Regions from separate parts of the Homo sapiens genome. Here region 2 is linked to region 1. A link means that fine-mapping ties the variant in region 1 to the expression of a gene that starts in the linked region. Tissue or cell type: whole blood. Region 1 holds a variant in brackets; the other region holds the start of a gene. Each region is shown on its reference strand, or each on the opposite one.

Region 1 (2,500 bases):
GTGTTCTTGGGCAGGGTGTGAGCATCTGTTTGCTCCTGTGTTAAGCAGGAAGAACAGTACCCTTGGCGCTGGGTGCTTCAGGGACTAAAAAAATCAGGGAACATCACCACCCAATGACTATTCCTGTGCCACTTTTGCAAACTTTTATCATATCTATGTACTACTATTGACTTGATGTTTTTATTTAAACTGATTTTTTAATTTATATGAATGTGTTTTGAAAGGAACCCTCGTAGTGGTACAGTGCATGGTAAAACCAGTATCACTTGCAATACATAGAAGACAATCTCAAAAATAAATACATAAATTAAAATGAAACATGATCCTTTGCATCCCAACTTTGGAAAACCCTGAAATGATATATGTATCTTTCTTTGGTAGAATAGAGTAGATAATTCACAAGTTCATTTCTCTTCCCCTCTACTTTCCACATATAGTAGCCATTTTCCAATAGGGTAAAATAATTCATAAATGTACTTGTTTTCTGGATTCATCTACACCAAATGGCTTTAGCCACCATCTTTATCTGTTTGTGCCATTAACTGTGCTGCTGAGTTAAAAAAAAAAAGAACCATTATACCTAGTCCACTTGGTTTCTAAGACACATAAAAAACATACAAAATATGTTTTCTTTACTTTTTCTTTTTTTTTTTTTTTTTTGAGATGGAGTCTGGCTCTGTCATCCAGGCTGGAGTGCAGTGGCGCAATCTCGGCTCACTGCAAGCTCCGCCTGCCGGGTTCACGCCATTCTCCTGCCTCAGCCTCCCGAGTAGCTGGGACTACAGGCGCCCACCACTACGCCCGGCTAATTTTTTGTATTTTTAGTAGAGACAGGGTTTCACCGTGTTAGCCAGGATGGTCTCGATTTCCTGACCTTGTGATCCGCCAGCCTCGGCCTCCCAAAGTGCTGGGATTACAAGCTTGAGCCACCATGCCCGGCCCAAAATATGTTTTCTATACATGTAGATAAAATTCAGTTATCACATTTTCCCATTATTGCATTAGGATGTCCTATAGACA[T/G]ACAGTTGTGATTCTCATAAGCCTGAGAATTTTACATACATGTTCCCTCCTTGGCTATGGGGGCTTATGTAGCTGACCCACATTGATCCAGTCTACCTCATTTTACCTGTATGTCCTTCATATTCTTTTATGCCAATAGGTAGCTCTCAGTATCACAGCTCTTTCTCTTTTTAAAGAAGAAAACAGGTATTCCAGGGAACTGTTGACTCATTAGCTCATTAGAACATGGTATAATGGAGCGAGAACTAGTTTTTCAGTCAGAAATTCAGTTCAATTCTGACTCTGTCATTTCACCTTGGTTAATTCACTGAACTTCTCTCCGTCTTTGGTTTCTTGAAATAAAGAGGGTGGGTGAAGTTTTCCAAACACAAACTGTCGCATGTGTAAGTTAACCAGTGGAGTTGCAGATGGTTTCACACACACTTTTTTATGGAAAAGGTATGTAAATGTGTGCTTTGATTTTTTTCTAACATTTAAAAATTACCATTTATGAAACTTTCTATTTTCAGTTAAATCTGAAATTTAAGAACTAGAGATTAGAGGGATAACATAAAATGGCCAGATGTGGCTTGTTCTAACCCCAAACACTGAAAAGCACTGTTGCCAAAACACGTAAGTGTGTAATTTTCACGATCTACAATCCATAACATTTGATATTCCTGCAAGTGCAGTGAGGACAGAGGACAGTGACAGAGACGCGTCCCTGGGCAGGATTGCTCCTCAACTTGGACATTTTGCGGGGTGTGTGGCTCTCACGGCCATGCTGGCCTGTGAGTGTCCATCCTCCCACACACCAGAGGACCCCCATCCTGCTGATCTTTGTGCCATATTTCTTTAATATGCCAGTTGAGGGAACACAATGGATAAAATGACTTGCATCCCTTCATCACTGTCTTGGAAAAATACAAAGAGATAAAGGTTTCACAGGCACAGAGGCCGCTGGTGACCCACTTACCCACGACTCTGTCACTCTTGGAGCTTTGCTGTCCTCCCGAGGTGGTGGAGAGGTCCTCGGGGATCGGCATGGGCTCATCGCCCTCATCTGGAGTATCGCTTACAGGGGGGCTTTCCTTCCCTGATGAGAAAGAAGAAGTGTGAGTCTCGGGCGGTCATGGTCAAGGTGCCTGGGCTTCCCCCGGCTTTTGGCTTGAGAGGGTGGCATGAGGAGGCAGGTACTGGGTGGAGCCAGTGCTTCTCTGCTGGGATGCATATACCTTTTTCTTTTTATAAAAAAAGTCACTTCTCCCCACACAATACAAATGAGAGAACATAGATGTGCAAAAGGGAAGAAATACAATCACCTATAATCCCAGACACTGCCACTCTTAAAATCATCTTTATATACTATAAATAATATGAGGTGACATTATTTTGTTTTTCAAAATGAACTAGCTTTTAGACATTCTCATGTACATATTTCCATGCTCAGGGTCATATTTCCATAATTTCATGTATAACGGGTACACTAGGATTTATTTAA
Region 2 (3,021 bases), not on the chromosome of region 1:
CCTTCTTCTCCCCCGCTCCTATTTCGTTTAATCCTAACAATTAGGATAACTATCATCACCCTTCTACAGTTGCTGACTCTGGAGCTCAGAGGGGGAAAGATCGTGCTCCACATCACAACACCGGTAAACTCTCAGAACCTGCATCAAACCCAGGTCTTCAAACTCACCCCTCCTGTTTTTCCCAATATGCAGTGCTACCTTTCATGGTCGGCCCATTTCTGGGAACTTCGATACTGTGCTTCTATTGCTCCAGGTTTAAGGAGCATTCTGAGCCTTGACCGGTTCTGAGCTTTGACATCCAACAATCTTATGGCTCTGCTTGGAACATCAGTCATTGACACCTCTAAAAGATTCACTATCCCCTCTGATACTCCATGCCCACCATCCATCCCCAAAACTTCAGAAGAAATGAGGTTAGGAAACCAGGACAGAGCAGAAAGTGCACTGTTCTACAAGGGCTGAAGATGAGTCACAGGTAACCCAGATGAGCAATCAGCCAAGTCTCTTCCACGGCCAATTCATTCAGTCCGCCAGGCACAAGCACTTCTCTCCCGAAGACTCACCTGATAAGAACACCAAAGTTCCAACGTTTCTCGTTGGAAATGAGCACAGAGAGGACACTGCTCACACAAGCAGTGTGGACGCAGCAAGCTCCGCGCCCCGCAACCCTGCACCGAGCACGGTTAACCTCACACTCCCACAGGCGGCAAGAACCGGGACGGCGATGCCCAGTCCAGGCGCTTCCCCTTAGAAGCCCCTTCGCCGCTGGCCCCTATCAGAAAGGAAAGGGGAGGAGGCTGGGGGAGAAACAACTTTATGCTCATTTGCAAGACAGGACCAAAACAAAACCAGCAAACCGAAGCCCTTTAGGAACACCGCCCAGTTCACGGCGCGTGCAAGTTCCGAGGGCAGTTAAGTTTTTGCAACACTTCCCAGCCCTGACCCTGCCCAAGCCGCGGCCGGAGGACTGAGGAAGTGGACGGTCCCGAGCGGGAGGCCCGCGGCAGGAAGTGGAAGCAGAGCCATCTGCGGGATAGGGAAGGAACCGCGGCTACAAGGGAGAGGCGGAGGCCGCCCCCACTTCCTCAGCCCCAGGCAGCCCAGGAAGCCGAGACTCCCCCAGGGAGTCCTCCCGGAGCGGAGCGGGGCCGCTGCCGGGGCGTCGCCCTCCGCCGGCCTCGGGGCGCGACATGTCCTGCCGCCGCCCGGCCACAGCCCGGCACGGAGGGAGCAAGAGGCTGCGGGCGTGCGGCGTACCCCACTCCCCAGCCCGCGCCCCACCCCGCCCGGGGCCCGCGGGCGCCGCGCCCTTACCAGGGACCAGTCCCGCCGCCTCCGCCGTCCGCACCCGGCCCGCAGCTCTTAAACGCGCCCCGCCCCCTCCCGGGGCCGGACCCCAGCCGTCCTCCACCGATTTGTCATTGAGCTGCCGGGCTCGCTTTCCCACCCCCCGAGCGCGCCTCCGGCGTCGCCTAGGCAACCCCTCCTCTCGAGAGCGCGCCCTCGCTTCCGTTCTTGCCCTCTCCTCGGAAGCCACGCCCGTCGGGGGGCTGTCAGCCAATCCGAGGCTGATTTTCCAAGCAGCGGGCGGCCGGGGAGGAGGTTTCACCAATGAGAAGCTGCCCCAGGCACGGGGGGGCGGGCCCAGCGCGCCTGCCCCGTCCCCCTCTGTTTCTCTCTCTGCCCCTCGGACACGCAGCTGGTAACCCTGCGGCAGTGGAGGAGCTGCCCGCCGGTATTGAGGGCGGGTGCGGGTGCACAAGGTGGGGCGCCAGTTGTGGGATTCAGGCCAGGGCTAGGACGAAGTAATGGAAAGCAAAAGCGAAGGACAGACCTGATCATACAGAAACAGAAGAAAATTACGAGGTGGCGAAGAGTGCTGGAGCGCGGCGATGGGGATGCCGCCCGGGGGTCTTGGGGCGGGACTCCACCTGCCGCCACCACTCGCTTCGCTGATGACATCCCATTAGCAGTAATGGAGTTAGTGAGTGCATGGCGGAGACTGGACCCAGGCCGCCTACAAGGGCCAGAATCCCACCCCAGCCATAGCCTCGAGGCAGGAAGTGCAGTGGGCAAGCTCCCTGCCAAAGCCCAGGAACGTGTGATTTTGTATCCAGTACAGCTTCATCTCGGTGGATTTTCCTTCCTAACCACCTCCTCCTCCACAGGTTTTGTGACCGTGCTGACCCCTACGCAGACCTCATGAGAGTCACAAGCCATCGCAACTGACAGTTTAAACGTCTGCCTCTTATCTCTAAGGGAGGGAACTATCTCTTATGCAATGTGATATCCATGGCTGCTAGCACAGTGTAATTAATTCTTTCATTGTTGATCATTGTAAGTTAGGATGCATGTGTATACTATATTGGAGGCTTTGGGCCATGATTAGATTGCTATGTATCTACCAGATCCAGTCCCTCCATCAGCATCTATATCAAAAAGCACAGAAGCTTTACCTTAGTCTTAAGTGACCAACTTAACAAAAAAGTGCAATCAGAAGAATATCCTAGTGTTAGCCTACTAAGTATTCTGTTTTTACCATTCTCATTCACATTTAAAACTTTTATTGAGTGCTAATCGTATGACAGACACTTTGCTAGGTACAGTAAGGAGATGGGGTAGGAGGCTTCTCAAAGAGGAAGCTCCCTAGTATTTATAACCTAGAAGAGGAATCAGACCCAAACCTTTTCTTACGGAGTAACAGTTAAGTGCACAGGTTTGGAGTCTGGAAGCATAGGATTAAAGGAGGGCTCTACCTTGTGACTAGCAGTTACTTAATTAGGAAACTACTTCTGTGGGCTTTAGTTTCACCAGCTGCCCAATAGCAGCACCTCCATGCTATAGGTAAGAAGATGTACATGCAAGTCCACATAGAGCTCTCAGTACAGTGCTAGGAACTTGGTGAGTGCCTCAGGAATGTGAGCTTACATTAGTGATTGCCACCAGAGGCCACGATGTACAGTCAAGTGTGTGATCACCAATCTGGTACAGCCTTATCTCCCAAAGCCCATCTGTATCAAG

Evidence for each region. PIP is the estimated chance that this variant, and not a neighbour inherited with it, causes the effect. A credible set is the group of variants that fine-mapping cannot tell apart.
Region 2: it holds the start of RALB, and the variant in region 1 is the best candidate, but not a certain one, in a credible set for the expression of RALB in whole blood (TOPMed, PIP 0.70).

What each region holds. Positions count from the first base shown.
Region 1 is chr7:50,327,233-50,329,732 of GRCh38, reverse strand. It overlaps IKZF1 (IKAROS family zinc finger 1), which reads right to left. Exons shown (of 8, transcript NM_006060.6): 3 at 1,976-2,095. Among named protein-coding and RNA genes, the nearest start is that of IKZF1, 24 kb to the right of the region's middle. The variant T/G (reference allele first, on the strand shown) is at 1,021.
Region 2 is chr2:120,251,274-120,254,294 of GRCh38, reverse strand. It overlaps RALB (RAS like proto-oncogene B), which reads right to left and starts at 1,443. Exons shown (of 5, transcript NM_002881.3): 1 at 1,315-1,443. RefSeq lists an enhancer at 391-660 and a silencer at 1,161-1,750.